2 separate regions of the Homo sapiens genome follow, and region 2 is linked to region 1. The links come from fine-mapping of genetic effects on gene expression. A gene starts in region 1. The other region holds a variant in brackets. All regions are shown on one strand. Distances are between the middles of the regions.

The links.
Region 2: its variant is fine-mapped to the expression of CIAO1 in whole blood (TOPMed, PIP above 0.99).

What each region holds. Positions count from the first base shown.
Region 1 is chr2:96,260,440-96,271,686 of GRCh38, reverse strand. CIAO1 (cytosolic iron-sulfur assembly component 1) reads right to left here and starts at 5,462. Exons shown (of 7, transcript NM_004804.3): 1 at 5,198-5,462; 2 at 4,218-4,366; 3 at 3,951-4,062; 4 at 3,763-3,851; 5 at 3,029-3,230; 6 at 2,332-2,419; 7 at 1-576. The coding sequence starts at 5,336. The coding sequence ends at 336. It overlaps TMEM127 (transmembrane protein 127), which reads left to right and starts at 5,690. Exons shown (of 4, transcript NM_017849.4): 1 at 5,690-5,818; 2 at 6,175-6,549. The coding sequence starts at 6,306. RefSeq lists enhancers at 3,074-4,273, 4,871-5,150, 5,381-5,570, 10,498-10,747, 10,221-11,152 and 2 more and silencers at 5,801-5,850, 5,861-6,070, 6,121-6,430.
Region 2 is chr2:96,421,152-96,432,398 of GRCh38, reverse strand. No RefSeq gene overlaps it. Among named protein-coding and RNA genes, the nearest start is that of NEURL3, 79 kb to the left of the region's middle. RefSeq lists enhancers at 3,744-4,943, 10,070-10,571. The variant G/A (reference allele first, on the strand shown) is at 4,416.

The sequences.
Region 1 (11,247 bases):
AACTTCAGAAAAGCCTGAGACACATACCCCCTCCTACTATATATAGTGATTATAAATAGTATATTTACCTCCAAAAAATTTAACACTGTGCCCTAATGCAAGAAAAATCTGTGGTATAACAATGTACTCATGTTCTGTAGCTCTTTACTGAAGGCCTCATGTCAAAGGCGGGGAAGGAAAGCAATTCTGTGGCTCTGCACTTCTACCCAAGTCTGAAGAGAAGTGAGCCAAGTTAAATGAAGGTCAAGGATGCTCCTCCTGGTCCTCTCAGGGGCTGGTAAAGTCTTATATGACGTTTTCTGGGGAGTCATTACTCTGTCCAAAGTCGAGGTAGCTCAGAGGCCTTCAGGCCGCTGATACTTCCAGAAGGCCACCTCCCCATCATCACTGCAGGAGGCCAGTAGCCCTGGCTCCTTGGGGTTCCAGGCCACACAGTTGACATCCTGGGAATGGGCCTGATGCAAGTGGGCTGTCAGGGAGAAGGTGGGCTGCTGTGGATCCGAGTTGGGATCCTCCTGAAACACGCGGATCGCGTCATCCCCACAAGCTGTGGCCAGAGCCCCTGTCAGCTGACACCTGGAAGGAAAGTGACATCAGTGGGTATACCTGACTAATTAGGCCAGAGAGACCTGTTCCATAGTTCCTGGCCTGTTCTCTTCCCTAACTTCAGGCCTCAGCTAAAAACCTCTTATTAAAATGTTTCCTTAACTAATAAGGAGTCACAAATATCACCCACTTATATCTTCAGATGCTGCAATCTAGTTCTTTCCCCTACTATGATTATCCTAAAAAACGACATGCAATTATGAACTGCACTTTCCTCACTTGGCATAAGCAGTTTCCCATGTCATAAAGTTGTTTTTTTTTTTTTTTTTTTGAGATGGAGTCTTGCTGTGTCGCCCAGGCTGGAGTGCAGTGGCACAATCTTGGCTGACTGCAACCTCCCCCTCCCAGGTTCAAGCGATTCTCCTGCCTCAGCCTCCTGAGTAGCTGGGACTACAGGCATGTGCCACCATGCCCGGCTAATTTTTGTATTTTCAGTAGAGACAGGGTTTTATCACATTGGACAGGCTGGTCTCAAACTCCAGACCTCAAGTGATCCACCTGCCTCAGCCTCCCAAAGTGCTGGGATTACAGGCCATGAGCCACTGGGCCCAGCCATCATAAAGTTTTTTTTTTTTTTCTTTAGATGGAGTCTTGCTCCATCACCAGGCTGGAGTGCAGTGGCGCAATCTCGGCTCACTGCAACCTCCGCCTCCCGGGTTCAAGCGATTCTCCTGCCTCAGCCTCTGAGTAGCTGGGATTGGGTGCGTGCCAACACGCCCAGCTAATTTTTGTATTTTTAGTAGAGACGGGGTTTCACCATGTTGGTCAGGCTGGTCTTGAACTCCTGACCTCATGATTCACTCACCTTGGCCTCCCAAAGTGTTGGGATTACAGGCGTGAGCCACAGCGCCTGGCCCCATCATAAAGTATTCTTAACCCCTTTCTTTAAACAGTGATACAACAAGCTGAGTTCTACCATAATTTACTTAAGTTCACTTTTGTTGAATAGGTGATTCCCAAATGTTTGCTAATATAAAGCAAGCTTAAGTGCTCAGTTTTTTTCACTGTTTTGGATTTCCTAGGGATCAATTCTCAGGGCCAGAACTACCCTCTAACCTACTCTCCTATATGAATGGTGCAGCTTTTCCAGCTTCCACAAGGCCAGAGTCAGTGTTACCTATAAAAACCCCAGCCACTGCCAGGTGCGGTGGCTCATGCCTGTAATCCCAGCACTTTGGGAGGCCAAGGTGGGCGGATCATGAGGTCAGGAGATCGAGACCATCCTGGCTAACGCGGTGAAACCCCGTCTCTACTAAAAATAAAAAATTAGCCAGGCATGGTGGCGGGCGCCTGTAATCCCAGCTACTTGGGAGGCTGAGGCAGGAGAATGGTGTGAACCCGGGAGACGGAGCTTGCAGTGAGATGAGATCACGCCACCGCACTCCAGCCTGGGCTGCAGAGTGAGACTCTGTCTCAAAAAACAAAAAAACAAAAAAAAACCCTCAGCCACGAATGCAGATTCAATAATAACTTCTGGACAGCACGAGCTGTGCGAACCTCTAGCGCTGGTGCTACCCTCACAGCCTGGGACTGTTCTCTGCTCCTGTGAATGCCAGCCCAGCCAGCTGTAAACCAGCATGGTAGAGTCAGGCCTGATAAGGAATGGGGGTGGCTGCCCTCAATTCCCAAGCACTCCCCCAGGGTTGCAGAGGACTGCATAGGGTATGCCTTCTCTAAAATCCCTGATTTATGGGGATGGGATGGGGTGGGGGGATGGAGTCTTACCAAGCAATGTCATAAATGGTCCTTGAGTGGAAGCCGGACAAAGTACAGATACATTTCCAACTGGGGTCAGAGCCGCTGCATGCCACCCCTGCAAGACAGACTTCTCTTGCCCTTAAACGTTCCTATGTCCTGGGCACCTCAAAGGAGAACCTAACTTACCTTCCCTCACCCTCATCTTCAACTGATTATGAGTCTGTGTCTCCGTTCGTGTCCCCATCCCTGCTTATCTGCCTTACACACTATAGCCAGACTGGCGTTTCTCAAGCAGAATTCCGAGGAAACATCCCTGTTCTGTTGCAGACTGTATGTAACTACTTTGCGTGCCTGTGAAGGCCACCCACCAGCCGACCCAACCCACTTTATTCCTCTCCAAACCCCAGACGTCCTATGCCCCATTTAAATGCATTACCACCCCTCAGTCTAAGCATTCCCGCCATTGTTATCTTTACTCACACTGTTGAGTTTTCACTTGAATTCTCACGTGAAATTCTCATGTTAAAATCCTACATACCCTTTTAAATTCAGATGAAACAACCCATTCTACAAAACTTTCCTGATTCTTCCAGCACTCTATCCAGAGCCCTCTTGTAGCACATCTTACCTTTTACCCCCATTTGCTCTGACTCATGTACGTGTCTTAGCAGACTGTGAACCCCTTGAGAGATGGGTCTTCTTTAGCTCTACTAATGGACCTCACCTTGTTCATTGCCTGGTAGATACTGACGCCAGATACGCACAGTACGGTCATCACTACAAGACGCCAGGCGCTGGCCACTCGGGTCAAAGGCCAAGCTCCACACAGTGGATTCATGGCCCTCAAGGGTGGCACAGCATACCCAGTCATCCTCTTCCTCCCGGTACAGCTTCACTGTGTCATCATAGCTGGCAGAAGCTAAGAGCTGGGGGAAGAGTGAAAGGAAACCCAACATGTGTCTGTGTGGCCCAGGAAGCAAAGGACAGGTCAGTTCCAGGTATCTGCTTTTATTTTATTTTATTATTTATTTGAGATGAAGTTTGCTGTTGTTGCCCAGGCTGGAGTGCAATAGCACGATCTCGGCTCACCGTAACCCCCGTCTCCTGGGTTCAAGTGATTCTCCTGCCTCAGCCTCCCGAATAGCTGGGATTACAGGCATGTGCCACCATGCCCGCTAATTTTGTATTTTTAGTAGAGACGGAGTTTCACCATGTTGGCCAGGCTGGTCTCGAACTCCTGACCTCAGATGATCCACCCACCATGGCCTCCCAAAGTGCTGAGATTATAGGTGTGAGCCACCACACCCAGCCGGATCTGTTTTTATAAAGGGACTAATGTTTTTTGTTCACAGATGGAACTCTCCGTAAAAGCTAGATTAAGGCTGAAAAGCAGAGGAAGGCTGGGCACAAGCCTGCACACCAGAGCCCTTCCCACAAGAGTCCCTGCTTGACTCTTACCTCCTGACTTGGGTGCCAAACCACATGCTTGACATCCTGTGTGTGGGAGTTGAGAACACTGACACATTCATACTCATCCTCTTCATCAACTGTGGGAGAGAAAAAGGGGACCCAAGAGCCGACCCTGTCAGGGACACAGAGGGGGCTGTCAGGTGGTTCCCAATCCACCTGGAGGGACCTGGCCTCACCTTCCCAGACCCAAACGCTCTTATCTCGGCTGCAAGTGGCCAGGAGGTTGCCAGATGGGGCCCAAGCCACTGACTTGACCTCATTTTCATGGCCCTCGAGAGTGGTTACACACTGTGAAAGGGGAAAGAAAATGAGAATTAACAGCAGCTAACACCCCTAAGCCCCTTCCCATGGGTACAGCCCAACTGGCGCAGGTTGGCTCAGGTTCCTGAACCAGCCCTGGGGAGGAAACAGGCAATAATTCTGGTCCCAACCAGCCTGGGTACCTCAAAGTCATCCTGGTTCTTCTTCCAAATGCAAGTGGTAGCATCAAAGCTGGCAGAGGCCAGGTAATTACCGCAGGGGGACCAGGCTACCTTCCGCACGGTGCGCTGGTGGCCTTCAGAAAGGACAGACTTGCAGATCCAGCTGTCACCTAAAGGCGGAGCGCAGGCCAGGCTCTGGAGCTGGGTGCAGCACCATGAAGCCATTCAATATCAGGGGCTAGCACTGGAATCAAGCTAGTGGGGGAAAGCTCAGGGAGTGTATTTCACAGCTTTTACAAAGATGCAAATGAATCTACTTCGTCTGGAAGCTTTTTTTTTTTTTTTTTTTTTTTTTTGAGACGGAGTTTTTGCTCTGATGCCCAGGCTGGGGTGCAATGGCACAATCTCGGCTCACTGCAATCTTCGCCTCCTGGGTTCAAGGGATTCTCCTGCCTCAGCCTCCCGAGTAGCTGGGATTACAGGTGCCCGCCACAACGCCCAGCTAATTTTGTAGTTTTAGTAGAGACGGGGTTTCACCATGTTGGCCAGGCTGGTCTTGACCTCTTGACCTCAGGTGATCTACCCGCCTCTGCTTCCCAAACTGCTAGGATTACAGGCGTGAGCCACCGCGCCCAACCTCTGGAGGCATCTTTCTAAAACAAATCTGATCTAAAATTGCTATTGGTTCCCCAATGCCCTCGGGATAAAATGTGACCATCCAGTCGCAAGTTACTCTGAAGGCCACTTTCCTAACACCTCTCTTTTCCCATTTTCCTGCCTCTGCAGCTAACACAATTCCCTTGACATTTCAGCTTGTCTGCTGACGTTTTTCCTCCCAACAGTCGCAGACTTCTTTGCCTGTAAAGCCCTTCTCGGCGTGGCTAACATCCCACTCTCCCTCCGCCAGGAACAGGTTCAGCCTCCCCTGCAGGCTGAGCGCCTGCACTACGCGCAGGCTGAGCCCTCAGCGCTGAGGGCCGCGCAACCAGGCTGGGCCTTACCCTCCGTGCCCCAGATGCGGATTCTCCGGTCGCCGCCGCACGAGGCCAGCAGGGTCCCCGCGGGGTTCCAGGCCAGGAACCAGCAGCGGGAGTCCGGGTGCGCCGGGACACGGCCCAGCAGCACCAGCGAGTCCTTCATGTCGGCCCGACGCAGGGGGAGGTGGGGGCGGGCAGAGTCCGCTGAGCAGACAGCGGGTCTCACCGCGCGCGTCTGCGTACCGCCCACTCCAGGCTTCCGCGGCCGACAGAGGCTCCCGCTTCCGCCGGAGGACCTGGGTCGCCCCGGAAACTCAACTGCCCACTGCTGCGGCCGCCATACCCTCTGGGAGTTGTAGTCGCTCCCCTCACCTCGGCAGGGAAAGCATCGCGGGACCGCCTCGAACTACCAGTCCCGTGAGGCCCTGCGCAGAGCCGGCGGCGCGCCCAGGCTGTGACGCGCGCGGGGGACGGGGCGGGGAGCCGGAGGAGGCGGAGGCAGAGGAGGAGGAAGCCGGAAGTGCATCGGCCCCGGGTCTGTCCGGGCGTTGCGGGATTGGGGCCTGGGAACGCTCGGCCCCCGGCAGCCGAGAAGCCCGTGACTGGGCTGAGCAGCACCATCCCAGCCCTGGGGCCTGCTGACTGGTGAGGAACAGTGGGCGGCGTGGGGAGGGTCTTTTCTGCGCACAGGTCGCACCCCAAACCGCCGGTCCCAGATCACGGGTCCCCGATCCCCGCGGCCCAGCCCGGTCCTCCGCCCCTCGGCATCCTCTGGCTGAGACCCTGACTCCGGGTCTTTGCTCTAGCAGTAGCCGATCCCCGATCCCTCCGCCCCCCACTCGAGTCTGCCCAGACCCCATCTGGCCCCTGGCCCTCTTCGGTTGTCGTCCCGCAGTCCCATTCCGGAGTCTCCTGTCTCCGCCCCCCGAATTCCCGCAGCCCTCCCCGTCTCCGTCAGCCCCGGGTCCCACCCCCCTATCCTCTGGTGTCAACCCTGACAGCCCAGTCCCGGCTTCACCTGCAGCGAACCCGGAGCGTTGCTATCCTCCACCGGACTGTCAGGCTCTGCGCGCCCCGCGGAGGTCGGCGGCGACCAGCAGCGACTGCGGAGCGACGGCGGGCGGCCCCGGGCATGTACGCCCCCGGAGGCGCAGGGCTGCCCGGCGGGCGCCGGCGGAGGAGCCCGGGAGGCAGCGCTCTGCCCAAGCAGCCGGAGCGTAGCCTGGCCTCGGCCCTGCCTGGCGCCCTGTCTATCACGGCGCTGTGCACTGCCCTCGCCGAGCCCGCCTGGTTGCACATCCACGGAGGCACCTGTTCGCGCCAGGAGCTGGGGGTCTCCGACGTGTTGGGCTATGTGCACCCGGACCTGCTGAAAGGTGAGGGTGCTGCGCGCTGGCCCTTAAAGCCTCGGTGGGGGACAGAATGTGTTCTGGCTGAAGCAGAGATAGCCAGGGACCAGACACTTGGTTGAAGGAAACGGCCCCATAACTGCCTGGTGTTCATGCCCACCAGGTGGCTCTGTTTGGGGTCCGGCCCCTCATTAATTCTGATGTTATTCAGCTAAGCACCTACTCCTCACAGCCATGTTAATCCGGACTGCTGCTATTTTAGGATTCTGCTGGAGGAAGGACGCTGTGTATCGAGAAAAGATAAGGGTGCTAGGTATCACAGTTAGCTGGCCTCTTCTAAGGATCCTGTGAAATACGGAAAAGCTTCTTTGGGGCAGACTGATTAATGGAGAAAAAGGAACTTTTAATATGACTAGGTTTTAAAAGATATCTTAGAGTTCTATGGTAATCGGATGCGTATTAGAGAAGAAGGGAATCTGTGGCATTTTAGGTAATCGGAAGACCGTTCCATTGCCACCCGCAGTACAACAGTCGGAATGTGGCTCTTGGAACCATTATAGGTGTGCCTGACAGAGGCAAGGTTGCTTTGTTCATCATCATGCTTTCCGGCCAGATAGACAGCAGACGATGGGAGGGTCCTATGGGCCCCATAGTTTATCCTGCCCATTCTTGTCTCCAGTAAAAATTGTGAAGTGTGAGGACAGGACTGGACTGTATCACCTGCTTTTTACCCTAACAATGATCAATGTACCCCAAACAGTCCTTAGTAACAGCATAGTTCATCAACCCCAAGGTCTTTTGAGCCATCTTGAAGGTCTTATATCCTCTCTGTGCTATCCTGTCTGTGCTATTCCCTGGCTGTGATGCATTCCAGATGTTTACTGCACCGCCTATCAGAAGCACTTCCTGTTAGATATCTGCGTGTTACCTCCTGAAGAATTCAGGCACTGGGATTTGGTGAAAAGGTCCAAGTTCCCCGCTGTGCATCGGACCATACTCTGCTTCTGCAGGTCTAGGCTGAAAAGCCTCATCCTTGTGGCCAAATGTTGCCTTTCTCTGAGTGTTCTCTTACTGTTTTGCATCTCTCTTGAGTTTTAGAAGCTGTAGGGTGATTTTGTAGAAGGTTGGGGACAACTGGTTGTTTCCAGATTTCACCTTAATGGTACTCTTTGCTGGGTTGGCTCATTAAAGCCAAAGTTATGCACACGACAGAGGCCTTATATGCAGCCTTTTCTCTGTCATGTTGCTAATGGCACAAAGAGCATTAAGCTTGAGTGAGTCTTGGTGGTTTTTCTTTTAGCACATTGCCCTGTACTTGCTTTCTTTGAAGCACACATACCACCTTCCCACCACTAGACCCATCAGATCTAGAAAGCTAGATCTCCGAAATCTAGCACTGCATGGGGTGTGCTTAGCTGTGGCTCAGAAAAATGAAGGATCTCCCCAAGGCTACCCAGTTTAGGGTGGCAGAGCTGGGACTACCCCACCTCTGTTGATGCCAATATAAAATGATGCCGTGTCATTTATAGTTTTTATCCTTTGTTTTACTTCAGCTGTCATAAGGAGCAATCTCATAATTATTTCACTTTGGTGTGCATCCTTGTCGAAGGCATGTTAAAAATAAAAGTAAATTTTTGAGCCGGGCGTGGTGGCAGGCATCTGTAATTCCAGCTACTTGGGAGGCTGAAGCAGGAGAATCGCTTGAACTTGGGAGGCCGAGGTTGCAGTGAGCTGAGATCGCGCCATTGCGCTCCAGCCTGGGCAACAAGAGCGAAACTCCATCTCAAAAAAAAAAAAAAAAAAAGAAAGGCCAGGAACTGGCTCACACTTCTGATCCCAGCACTTTGGGAGGCCGAGGCGGGTGGATTGCCTGAGGTCAAGAGTTGGAGACCAGCTTGGCTAACATGGTGAAAGAAACCCTGTCTCTACTAAAAATACAAAAATTAGCTGGGTGTGGTGGCACACGCCTGTAGTCCCAGATACTCTGAAGGCTGAGGCAGGCGAATCGCTTGAACCCAGGAAGTAGAGGAGTTGCAGTGAGCCCAAGATCACACCACTGCACTCCAGCCTGGGCAACAGAGCAGAGCAAGACTCCATCTCAAAAAAAAAAAAAAAAGTAAATTCTTGGTGCAGGTTCTTCTTTGTTCACATGTGTATTTACCCTTTCTAAGAAATTATTCGGGCCAGGCCAGGCATGGAGGCTCACACCTGTAATCCCAGTACTTTGGGAGGCCAAGGCGGATGGATCACCTGAGGTCAGGAGTTCAAGATCAGCCTGGCCAACATGGTGAAACCCCATCTCAACTAAAAATACAAAAATTAGCCAGGCCTAGTGGCTGGTGCCTCAACTACCCAGGAGGCTGAGGCAGGAGAATCGCTTGAACCTGGGAGGTGAGGTTGCAGTGAGCCCAGATCACACTACTGCACTCCAGCCTGGGCTACAGAGTGAGACTCCATCTCAAAAATTAAAAAGAAAGAAATTATTCAGGCTCCGTTTTGTCTTTTGCAAAGCATGTTTTCTTAACCTTTACATTACATTTGCTCACATATTTAGAGACCTTAACCTGTGTATAGTTTCTACTTGCTTGCCTGTGGCCATCTCCTAAGAGCAGTTTGTGCCCATTAATAGGAGAGTTGGCAGTGGTGCCTCATGAGCTATCACAGAAGAATCAGTAAGGAATCCGGAAGTCCTTGATTGCATCTTCTCTCCCTTTTCTTTGTACCTACTGGTTTTTTGGTACCCAGTGGGCCTTCAGACATGTAGTATCCTGTGTGACTGTGCTGATCCTCAGGGCCTAACAGATATCCTGACCTGAGAGCCTGGAGTATTCCACATCTCAAGAGGGAGCAGAGCTGTCAAGCACAGATGTGGTGCATATAGAGTTTTTTTTTTTTTTTTTTTAAATGAGACAGACTCTTGCTCTGTCACCCAGGCTGGAGTGCAGCGGCGCCATCTCAGCTCACTGCAACCTCCGCCTCCCGGGTTCAAGCAATTCTCCTGTCTCAGCCTCACGAGTAGTTGGAATTACAGGTGCTCCACCATGCCCAGCTAATTTTTGTACTTTTCGTAGAGATGAGGTTTCACCTTGTTGACCAGGCTGATCTCAAACTCCTGACCTCAGGTGATCCACCCACCTTGGCTTCCTAAAGTGCTGAGATTACAGGCATGAGCCACCGCTCCTGGCCACATGTAGATACTTCCAGAGGGAGAACAGACCCTGCCAGGTCTCTGCCGGTGATGGGAGTTGGGCAGCCAGCAGGCCCTGGAGCAGCCTTACCATTTCTCAGCCCCTGCCTGAGTGCCACATTTTGACATTATGCTAAGCACACCCCATGCCTGCTTTTTTCCTCCTAAACAGCATCTTTATTTGGTAGGTACTGTTTCAGCCCCACTTCAAAAGGTCCCAGCTCAGGGAAGCTAGGTAGTTTGCTCAGCTAATCTGAGTGGACATTGACTCCAAAGTCCATACTCTTACTGCAACACCTTAGTGAGCTCCGAGTTTATTTCCCATCAAAGCTGCCTGAGGCTTATCACTTTCCTATTCTAGTTGAGTTTTATCATAAGCCCAGCCAAAGCTGTGCTTTTTGTCATAACTTCATCGCCTCAGTGTTGAGGCTTTAGTTGGTGATCCCAGGGCAAAGCCACTCTCCCATTGTCATTCACAAAGCTTCAGAGGCTTTAGCCAATGAAAGCTGGCTCCAAAGAACCCATCCTGGGCTGGGTGTGGTGGTTCACTCCTGTAATCTCAGCACTTTGGGAGGCTGAAGCAGGAGGCCAGCAGGATCACTTGAGTCCAGGAGTTCAAGGCTGCAGTGAACTATCGTCGTGCCTCTGCACTCCAGCCTGGGTGACAGAGTGAGACCCTTCCTTTAAAAAAAAAAAAAAAAGACCTCATCCTGGGTTTTCTCCACTGCCCCTGCAAGCGGTGCCTGCTTCTCACACAGCTCTCAACCTGGCCCTGGGTGGAGATAGACTCACACCTCTAGACCCCAGAAAGAGGGGCCGCAGATAGTCATTTCTTCTGAGCCTTTCTGCCTCTCAAGTGTGGCCACCAAAGGGCACTGGCAACAGCCCCAGGAAGCATCTTTGGAGAATGAGGAAGTTGGGGAGTAGAAGTCAGGTGAATCACAATTGACAGCAGCCACTGGAAGATCAAGGGCCTTCCAGGGAGAGCCTGTGTGCCTGATAGGTGGTGACTGGGGCAGCTGACACTGCCAGGCCCTGCGGGGCCTGTTGGTGTCTGTGGGATAACCTGGCTGGGCACTAGAGGGCTCTGTTAAGAGGCCTGTGTCGCAGGCCTGTCTGGAAGCTAAAAAGGTCACAGTGAGGAGACGCTGAGCAGGTTGCACAGATGCATAAAGAGGGATTGGGGCATTGGGGAAGTGTCTCTAATTCAGAGGGACTCCAGCAAGAAGGGAGGCGGGGTGGGACAGAAGTCCTTTTAAGCCTTTCTGCCTGCAGACTGTTTGGGTCAGGAGTGGTTAGAGCAATGGGCAGATAGACAGGAAGAGGCAGGACCTTCAAAACAAATCTAGCCTGGTGACTCACCAGTGACCTTGAGCAAAGTCAGTTCCATGGGATCCTATTACAGCTGCCTACTTCCCTGATGACTAGAGGGCACCGCCAAGCAGTGTTTACCAAAATCAACAGGCCAGAGCACAGCTGGAAGGTAGGAGGTGTTCTGTGTCTAGCCAGGGCATCGTGGACTGCACCACTGGCTTGAA
Region 2 (11,247 bases), 160 kb before region 1:
AAAAACCTAGTGATGTTCCAAACAAAGATATGTTCATCCTCTCTATCAGTTCATTTAGTAATTCTCAAGTAATTAATTGTTCTGCTTGATCTTGAGTTAGCAGTTTTATGAACCTGTGAGCTTTTAAAGATATGACGGGAGTTTATTTGACAAGTTAACGAAAAAGCAAAGAAAAACCTCTTGCAGTGTGACTGTTTTTCCTTATTGGAAGCCCATTTGGATAACCTGGAAGTTAAACTCTATGAAAAAGTGTTTGAATGTAAATAGACATAGGAAGAGTGTGTTCAGGGTTATGAATATAGCAGGGCAATACACGAATTTTAGAAACAGCATAAAAAGTTTTTATTAAATTGCAAATTTTGACATATTAAGAAAAGCCAAGAGTACAAGATTAAGTTATATTAGAGGAGAATATTGCTTAATTTTGACCTTTAAGATGAAACTTCTTAGCATTAGGCCATTATAACAGTGAGAACTGAAAGAAAAAGTTACAGGACCTGACAAATACTGAAGGAGTTATTATCTTAAGACTTCTTCAGAGGAGAAAAAGCTGAAAGCAGCAAGATATAGCAAAAGTTGAACTTCTGAAATATAATTTTGAGAAGTTTTAAAAAGACATTTATAAAATTTATACTTTTAATTTATAAAATTAAAACTAAAATTTCTTGCAATTTTATTAAGAGTAGATTAATGTTATGGGATCTTTGGGGTGTTGCTTTTTCTGGCCAGAAACCTCTGTGGCTGGTGGCACCTTTGCCTGAGTTTTGTTTGGGCCTGTTGGGCTTGTTCCAGTCACTCGGCCTGGCAGGCTGCACTCGGCTCATGTTACTGGCCTGGGTCCCACGCCTGCCAAGGGCAAGTCAGGCATGGAACAGCAAGGGGTGTGTGAGTGAGAATGGGGTCCAGCCACTGCGCACAGTCAGACATGCCAGCTACTGCAACAGGATGGACAGTTCCAGGTGCCAGCATGGGGGCCAGCTCTCCGCGAGGCTACAGCTGGACCAGGTGTACTGCAGGCAACTTCCATGGTGGGCATCAGGGTACATGGTGGCACCCAGAAGCTTGGAGACACCAAGAACCATAGGGGCCCAAAGAGGGAGTCACAGCCCTGGCTCAGGGAGCTCCCAAGTCTGGGCTCCTCAAAGGGCCACAGCTCTTCTCTCCTTCTCTTTCCCCGTGATGTGGTGAGCAAGGGACATGTCTCAGGCCTGTTTGTGTTAATGCTCTTTTAGCCCCACCATTCAACAGGTCCCAAGTTCTTATCCTGTGACAAGGAAGAATGAGGTACACAGACAGGTGGAGGGTGAGCAAAACAAAGAGGAGCTTTATTGAGTGATAGAACAACTCAGTCTCCCACATGAGCAGGGGGCAGCTCCTTTCTGCAACCAGGCTGTCCCCACTAGTGTTCAGCTCCTGGCAGAGAGGGGACCCTGGAATAGGAAGTTCCTCTCTGCAGGCAGGTCATCCCATTGTCTCTGCAGCTCTCAGCAGAGAGGAGGCCCTGGAGTGGGTTGCTCCTCTCTGCAGGCAGATCATCCCGTCATCTCCCCAGCTCTCAGCAGAGAGGAGGCCCTGGAGTGGGTAGCTCCTCTCTGCAGCTGGTCATACTGATATCTGCCCAAGTTTGGCTGAGCCTGGGGATTTTATGGGCCTGCAGGGGAGGAAGTGCACAGCAGTTGGTCCATGGGTGGCCATGGGCAGGCCTGGAAAAGGCACTGTAAGTTCCCACTCCAGTCCGTGGGACTGGCAGCCTGGCCTCCAGCCTTCAGGCCCTCCCTGGACTGAAGGTGGGGCTTCATTGGGACTTGCCCCCTTCTGCCCAGGAGGCTGTCTGCCTCCTGCTGTGGTTCATGGTGCCCAGGCTGTTCATACCAAAGGCTGCCTGCAGGCCAGCGCTGCTGAGCTGGCCTCAGTCCTGCCTTGGCTTCCCTTCCATGCTCATCCGCACCCAAAATCTGGAGGGTTCTGAGGTAACAGGGGCCTGGTGTGTCAGCACTGCCCCAAGTGTGTGCACACCCAGCCAGGCTGCAACAATGCCCAGGCTCAGCCCCAACTTTGCTCCAAGATTGGAGCAGGCACTGACAGCAGGGAGAAGCCAGGCAGTGGGAGCAGGCACTTCCAAGCCTGCAAGGGCAGTGGGGGCCTTCTTGGGCCCCCAAGAGTGCAGGGATGCCTAGGTCCACAGGTGTAGTTTGGGCAGCTGCAGCTGTATCCCAGGGTCAGGGCTCTTGCTTGCTCCATGGAGTGGGAGCACAGGGATGTCTGGAACTGGAACTGTGTCTTGGGTGGCTGCAGCTGCATCCAAGGAGCTCCTGCTTCAACTCAGAAGGGGTAGGGCTCCTGCTTGTCCCCCACTTTACTGGCTTCATTGAGCATGAAGCCCCAGCCATGCCTCCCTGCTGCAGCTTGTGTGATGGCAGTGTCAACTCCAGATGGCCCACTGCTGCCATCATTAATACCTTAAGAAAATTTTGTTTCAATGTAGGGAACCAATGTTAGAACAACTATAACTTTTAAATAGCTTTTGGATTAGACAACAATTATTTTCCTTTAGTTAAGAAGTTAAGGTTTGTACTGCACATTGCTGTGTGAGTTCTGTGAAGGGGGAGCAAATGAGGAGGTGATCTACACACTGTAGAAGTTAGTCCCCCTTAGAGATTGCTTGGTTAGATTTCTTGCTAGGGTTTGTCTGAATAAGTGTGGGCTATTTTTAACCCTGGAGGTAAGACTATCTAGGTGAAGGTTATTGGTTAAAGATTTAGCTGGCATTCCTGGGAGAAATAGGGCTATTAGAGGGAAAGATGAATTCAGAAGTTGGGTAAATATTAAGCAGGCACCCATTTTGGAAAGTATATTTTTGTCCCAAAGGAGTTTGGGTTATTTAGATACTATAGGGACTGTTGGGAGAAAGGTCGTTGGTTCCTTAAGTAATATAAAGGGGTGTGAATTTTTTGGGGGAGGGAGCAGGTGCTGCTTGCCCTCATTACCTGACAGAATTTGGAGGAGAGTTGTTCAGGGAAGATTAGTACAGAGTAAGTAGCTTTTGAACTTAAAAGGGAAATTTATAATTTCACTTGCCACCTTCAGAGTTGCCCTTGGTTTTGTTGTGTTGATGGTGGTGTCTGATTTGGAAGCAGCTGGAGCAGAGAGCCCCTTCAGTTCAAGGCCACCAAGGGTTGGAATTCCATCCTGGAGGCACTTCAGCCCTCAAGGAAGCTTCATTTCCAGTGGCTGAGCTTGTGGCAGAGCCATGTAGAGCTTTTTCCCATTTATCCCATTGGGGTAGTTTGCCTTCCAGTGGCCTGGCAACTACCTGGAGAAGTTTCCTTAGAGCTATGGGGAGGGGCTGGGGCTTGTACAGCAGCCAACAGTTGAGCTTGCCTTTTGTCCCTGTATTTTTCTTTCTCCTTAGCCCTGTCCTCCTTATTCTGCTCTTGGTTACAAAAGACTGAGGAGACTAATTTGAGGATTTTCTGCAGAGGGGCCATGCTTTATTTCACAAGAAAATTAGACCTTCCTTTTTGAGGGTTTGGGGGTTGAATTTGTCCCAGTGCTTTGGAATGCAGCCTAGAAGTGAGTTTGAAGGAATAGATGGGTCCGACGGAAGGACTGGAAAATGAGCCACTCAGGGCTAACATCTCCTGGGGACATGAACCACACATTCTCTTGGGGCATCCCACTGAGGAAAAGGGTTTCACTCATGTCTGCTTAGGGACTTGGGTGCATTTTCTTTTTTTCTTTCTTTTTTTTTTTTGAGATGGAGTCTCGCCTTGTCACCCAGGCTGGAGTGCAATGGGGGGATCTCAGCTCACTGCAACCTCTACCTCCTGGGTTCAAGTGATTCTCCTGCCTCAGCCTCCCCAGTAGCTAGAGTTACAGGCATACGCCACCGCGCTCAGCTAATTTTTTGTATCTTTAGTAGAGATGGGGTTTCACCATGTTGGTCAGACTGGACTTGAACTCCTGACATCGTGATCTGCTTGCCTCGGCCTCCCAAAATGCTGAGATTACAGGTGTGAGCCACCTCGCCTGGCCTCAGGTGCACTTTCTAAAGGGGTGTCCCACCCATTAGAAAAGACCTCTTCATGCTGGTGCCTTATGCCAGATGGCCAGTCCAGGTATGCTGTTATGCTGGGTGATTAACCCAGGTATGAGGAAAAAGGGTAAAGGAACAACTTGGCTTGGTGCCAGTCCAGGAGAGGGGGTGGGTAAAGAAAGATGTACCATTCTGAGGCTGTCTGGGATCACCTGATTTAGCAACATCCAGAGCAAGATGACTGGGTGACTCCACAGGAGAATTTAGAGTGAGAAAGAGAGGATATGAGTCACCCAAAATGTGTGTGAAGTCACTCTGAATGAGCTACCGCTGCCAGTCATGTCATACATAGGGATTAGGGACCTTTGGCCAGAAAAGA[G/A]AGAAGAGGGAATTTTCCTCCATCACAGGCAAGGCAGCCAACCCTGTTCACCCTTTGGCCTTTAGGCAACACTGAGTAGCAGCCCCAGCTGGTTGCTGTTAGTTGCTAGAGGGATACTAGCAGCCGGCTGCTGGAAGACTGAAAAGAGAAAATAAACTTAGGTCCCTCACCTGATGGGTGGTGGCAGTTAGACACTTTCATATGGACACCTTTCAGTCCCACCAGAGTGTAACTTCGGCCAGAGACCTTCAGTTGTCTCCATGCTTAGACGCTGTCCACCGAGGGCCCTGGGTTGGGAAAGAGAGAGGGGAGAGGGTTTCCTGTAAGAAGAGAGAGTCTTCATATGGGCCACCCAAATGTCATGGATAGCAACTAGCTGGGGCTGGTGGTGTGGGTGGTAAAAGAATTTACCAAGACAATTGTCGGTACAGAAAGGCAAATTTTTTAGCGAAAATAGGAAAATACATTGCAAGAAAGCAACAGGCAGATCAGCAAGAGAGGAGCTGACTGCTGGGGATTTAATAGGATGGTGCTTGTGATGGAGAGGGCTGCGTGCAATACTGATAATACCAAGGTTGCAGTGAGCTAGCTTGCATTTTTCTGTCAGGCAAGGGTCTGGTGATAGCTGGGCACAGGCAGATTGTGAGTTATTTGTACAGGAGGACTGTGTGTCCTGGACCATGAAGAAGGACAGACGCATGGCTTATCTGCCTTTTCTTTTTGCTTTCTCCTGCTCCCACCAGCCTGATTCTTTTTCCCTTATTAGGACCCCACAGCTTATTCATGTCCCTAAATATAACACAGGAAAGGATAAGCATCCCTTCTTATGTGACAACATCTTTTCATGCATTAAACATATCAAATACACCAATTTATTTTTATATTTTCTCTTTTTACAAGATTAAAGAACCAATCCTTGAAGATTTTCAAGAAGCCCTCTGGGAAATCTCAAAGTCAGTTTGAGAACAAGATTTCATTTAGGATTTGATTTTTGGGAAGGCAAAATTGTCACACACACACACAAAAAAAACTTCAGCTCTTTTAAAAGTGACAAGTGTTGGTACTCTTAAATAATCAAGGACATGACAAAGATTAACATAAAGCACAGGAGATTCTTCTGAGAATATGTAAAATCTTGCTTTCCTAGACAGATTATTTAAAAGGTGAAGAAAAACCTTTTACAACCTCTTTCTAAGAAAACTTTGTTGTTTTAACAGAGAGAAAAACCAAATTTTAGTTTTGCACCAACGTACTTCTGATATTAGGGCTTAAAAAAACATAAATAAATCCATTCAAATCTTAGCCAGCTTGACCATACATAAAATTCCTTTTCCAAGATTCCTTTTCCACAACGCTTCTACATCCATTCAGGTCCCCTCACCTCCTGCCCCACATTTTCCTTTCTCATTCTGGAACAACTAGATGTTCTATTAATACATTAAAATAAAATTACCCTCTTTCTCTTAACAAAAAAACATACCTTCATCTTACTTTCTTTGCATACATACACATCCGATTTTCCTTGCATACTTTTCATATGCAGTTGTTTTCCTCCAGCTTTATTATTTTTAATAGTTTTAATTACATATATTAATTATAATTTTAACTATTAGTAACCTTTCTTTTACAGAGAAAACTAGGAAGCATACAATTGTGAACTGTCATCACATACCAGTATTCTATAGCAGATTAGCAAAATACTATACAAATACTAACAAGTGTTTTATGAATATACTATCTGACAATTTCTAGAGACATATACTGTTTCTTTATAGTAAAATTTTTCAATATGACAAAAAGAATGTTTACTAACAGATCCAAATGTATTTTATCTACCTATACCATGTAAAAAGAAAAACTCCAAAGTATATAAATTTAAACTTAATCTTAATGATATGATTTGGCTCTGTGTCCCCACCCAAATCTCATCTCAAATAGTAATCCCCACGTGTCGAGGGAGGGAGGTGATAGGATCATGGGGGTGATTTCCCCCATGCTGTTCTCATGATACTGAGTGAGTTATCATGAGATCTGATGGTTTTATAAGTGTTTGGAAGTTCCTCTTTCCCTCTTCTCCCTCCTGCCGCCTTGTGAAGAAGGTGCCTGCTTCCTTTTCCACCGTGATTTTAAGTTTCTTGAAGCTTCCCCAGCCATGTGGAACTCTGAGTCAATTAAACTTCTTTCCTTTATAAATTACCTAGTCTCAGGGAAGTTCTTTATAGCAGTGTGAAAATGGACTAATACACTTAGCCATGAATGTTTTGGTAGTTTATTGTACTTAGAAACAATGTAGACATTTAATGGATTTCTGTTACTTAATTTAACTTAGCATAACTCCAAGGTTGCAAGTTACCAAAAAGATTTTGAAAATTGTTTTCAGGTATTAAACAAAGCTAGCACCAAGTGTAGTGGCTCATGCCTATAATCCCAGCACTTTAGGAGGCTGAGGCAGCAGGATTGCCTGAGGCCAGGAGTTTGAGCCTGCAGTAGCCTGTGATCATGCTATTGCACTCCAGCCTGGGCAACAGAGCAAGATCCTACCAAAAAAAAAAAAAAGAAAGAAAGAAAAGAAAAGAAAGAAAGCTAGCCATCATCTCAAATTCTTCCTCTGTTAACTATTTTTACAGCACATGCATGTTAAACAAATATCATAAAAATAAAAACCTAAATTATTAAATACATAGAGCTTTTGCTTTACTATTGTGTTTGCTTTACTGTTGTGTTTGCTTTATTATTGTGTTTGCTTTACTATTGTGTTTGCTTTACTATTGTGTTTGATATAAGTGAAATAATGGACTTCAAGCAATTCACTTTTACTGCATCTTTACTCGTACATTTGTTCTCATATTATATTAACAATTTTCATATTCTTAAACATCCAGTAGATAAAATATTAGCTTATTTAACTAGTAAACCCAAGTTGAATAGAAATGTATGCTCATATTACATTTAATGCTGGAACTCAGAAGACACAACTGTTTTTATTAAGCCAATAATATTAAACTAATCTTACATATCAAAGATTTACCTAAGTCATATAAACTTGAAGAGCAATATAGTTCCTTTATTTCTGAGAGTTTTAGGAATATTTAAATTATATAAGTACTTATTTTTATTTTTATTTTTTTGACACAGTCTTGCTCTGTCACCCAGGCTGGAGTGCAATGGCACGATCTCGGCTCACTGCAACCTCCGCCTCGTAGGTTCAAGTGATTCTCCTGCCTCAGGCTCCTGAGTAGCTGGGAATACAGGTGCCCGCCACCACACCCGGCTAATTTTTTTGTATTTTTGGTAGAGACTGGACAGAGCTCTTTTATTAATTAATTTTGGCAACACCATGTGGAGATAGAAAACTATCACATGTACATCACATACATACATGGACAAATGCAAATAGAGATCTTACAGCTTTCCGTTCCTTTTTTTTTTTTTTTTTTTGAGATAATCTCGCTCTGTTGCCCAGGCTGGAGTGCAGGCCTGATCTTGGCTCAAGTGATTCTCATGCCTCAGCCTCCTGAATTGCTGGGATTACAGCCATGCACCACCACACTTTGCTACTTTTTGTATTTTTAGTAGAAACTGGGTCTCAGTTTGTTGGTCAGGCTGGTCTCAAACTCCTGGCCTCAAGTGATCTGCTCACCTCGGCTTCCCAAAGTGCTGGGATTACAGGCATGAGCCACTGCACAAGGCCCATTCTAAAATTTTAATACACTCTTATCTTTGATATTTGTATCTGAATTGTGTGTTGCTTTTGTGTATGTGTATGTGTTTGTGGGGGAGATTTTTAAGATTTCCTTCTGCCCTGTTATGTAATCCCTTGGAGCCTGTGGATCACATTTCAAGCATGTTACTAAGGAGATGCTGGGGGCTGCCTGAATGTCCTCACAGCCCACGTGAGTGGATAAAAATTTAATCTAATTCCAATCAGCTTTTTTCTTTTCAGCTTCAGGAAGTTGCTTTTGGGATAACATGAGTCCCCTGAGAGCCCCTGATTGGGGCAGGGGGACTGAAATGGCTGAGGGAGCCAAGGGCTGGGAAAGAGAAATGTCTGGTGGGGGTGGACAGAGGCAGGAGGGGGAGGAGTTTAAAGGGGACACATCAAAGGATTCAAGGGAGCTGAAGGGAAGATCAAAGGTGGTCGGAGGAGGAAGGAGGAGGAAATAATGGGAAGACGGAGGTCTTAGAGGGGCCGTTTTGGGGAGGTCTTAAGTTTCCCAGAAAGACCAATCAAGTTCTAAATTATCCTCAGCCAGCTCATGCACTAAGAAGATGGACAGAGCTGGTGGAGCATATAGTTAGCCAGGGTTCAAGAAGGAAGTTTCAGTGGACTGAAAGATTCCCGTGGGAGGAGCAGGGCCAAATAGAGAACAGAGAGCCTTCATGAAGAGCCAGGGAAGAATCTTCCAGCCCAGGATTTGGGGAGGGGATCCCCACTTGAAACAAAGTGAGGAAGAATTTACCAGCCCAGAGCCAGGCCTAGGAGTCAGAGAATGAATGAATCATCTCCACTGCAAACAAAGAGCGGGACTTCCAGTACAGCAGGCAGCTTCCAATCAAAGATGCTTGGGCCTAGCACTGTGGCTCATGTCTGTAATCCTAGCACTTCCAGAGGCTGAGGCAGGAGGATTGCTTAAGCCCAGGAGTTTGAGACCAGCCTGGGCCAATCCTATCTCTAAAAAATAAAATAAAGTTAGGTGTGTGTGGTGGCATGCACCTTGATATGGCTTGTCCCCACCCAAATCTCACCTTGAACTGTAATAATCCCCAAGTGTCAAGAACAGGGCCAGGTGGAGATAACTGACTCATAGGGCTGGTTCCCCCATACTGTCCTCATGGTAGTGAATAAGTCTCGCAAGATCTGATGGTTTTATAAATGGGAGTTCCCTTGCACAAGCTTTCTTGCCTGCTGCCATGTAAGACGTCTCTTTGCTCTTCCTTCATCTTCCACCACGATTGTGAGGCTTCCCCAGCCATGTGGAACTGTGAGTCCATTAAAAATCTTTCCTTTATAAATTACTTAGTCTCGGGTATGTCTTTATTAGCCACATGAGAACAGACTAATACACAGCTGTAGTTCCAGCTACTCAGGAGGCAGAAGTGGGAGGATCACTTGAGGCCAGGAAGTCAGGGCCACAGTGAGCTATGATTGCTCACTCCAGCCTAGGTGATAGAGCAAGAACCTGGTCTCTAAAAACAAAACAAAACAAAACAAACTTGACTGTAACCCAGCTTCTTACAGAGAGAGAATCTTGAGACTCTAATTCAGCTTTTAGCTTATACTCAGTCTTAAGAATAGAAATCTGTGCTCACACTAGACCGCCTCTCTAGATTCTTCTTCACTGGGCAGGGCCTCTCTGAAAGAAAGGCAGCAGCCCCAGTCAGGGGCTTATAGATAAAACTCCCATCTCATTGGGACAGAGCCACTGGGGGAAGGCATGGCTGTGGGCACAGCTTCAGCAGAATAAAACGTTCCTGCCTGCCGACTCTGAAGACAGCAGTGGATCCTGACAATAAGGGTTCTACCAGCACAGCACTTGAGCTCTGCTAAGGGACAGACTGCCTCCTTAAGTGGGTCCCTGACCCCCGTGCCTCCTGACTGAGAGAGACCTCCCAACAGGGGTTGACGAACACCTCATACAGGAGAGTTCCAGATGGCATCAGGCCAGTGCCCCTCTGGGACAGAGCTTCCAGAGGAAGGAGCAGGCAGCAATCTTTGCTGTTCTGCAGCCTCTGCTGGTGATACCCAGGCAAATAGGGTTTGGAGTGGACCTCTAGCAAACTGCAGCAGACCTGCAGAAGAGGGACCTGACTGTTAGAAGAAAAACTAACAAAAAGAAAGCAATAACATCAACATCAACAAAAAGAAGCCCCACACAGAAACCCCATCCAAAGGTCATTAGCCACAAATATCAAAGGTAGATGAATCCACAAATATGAGGAAAACCAGTGCAAAAATGCTGAAAATTCCAGAAACCAGAATGCCCCTTCTCCTTCAAATGATTGCAAGTCCTCTCCAGCAAGAACACAAAACTGGACAGAGAATGAGTTTGACAAATTGACAGAGGTAGACTGTGGGTAATAACAAACTCCTCTGAGCTAAAGGAGCATGTTGTAACTCAATGCAATGAAGCTAAGAACCTTGACAAAAGGTTACAGAAACTGCTAATTAGAATAACCAGTTTAGAAAAGAATATAAGTGACCTGATGGAGCTGAAAAACATAGCAAGAGAACTTCATGAAGCATACATAACTATCAATAGCCAAATAGATCAAGTGGAAGAAAGGATATCAGAGGTTGAATATCAACTTACTGAAATAAGGCATGAAGATGAGATTAGAGAAAAAAGATTGAAAAAGAATGAACAAAGCCTCCAAAAATATGGAACTATTGTGAAAAGACCAAACCTACAGTTGATTGGGGTCCCTGAAAGTGACGGGGACAATGGAACCAAGGTGGAAAACACACTTCAGGATATTATGCAGGAGAAGGTCCCAAACCTAGCAAGATAGACCAACATTCAAATTCAGAAAATACAGAGAAGACTACTAAGATGCTCCTCGAGAAGAGCAACCTCAAGACAACCAAGGTTGAAGCAAAGGAAAAAATGTTAAGAGCAGCCAGAGAGAAAGGTCGTGTTACCTACAAAGGGAAGTCCACCAGACTAACAGCAGATCTCTTTGCAGAAACTCTATAAGCTAGAAGAGAGTGGGGACCAATACTCAACATTCTGAAAGAAAAGAATTTTCAACCCAGAATTTCATATCCAGCCAAACTGTTTCATAAACGAAGGAAAAATAAAACCCTTTACAGACAAGCAAATGCTGAGGGATT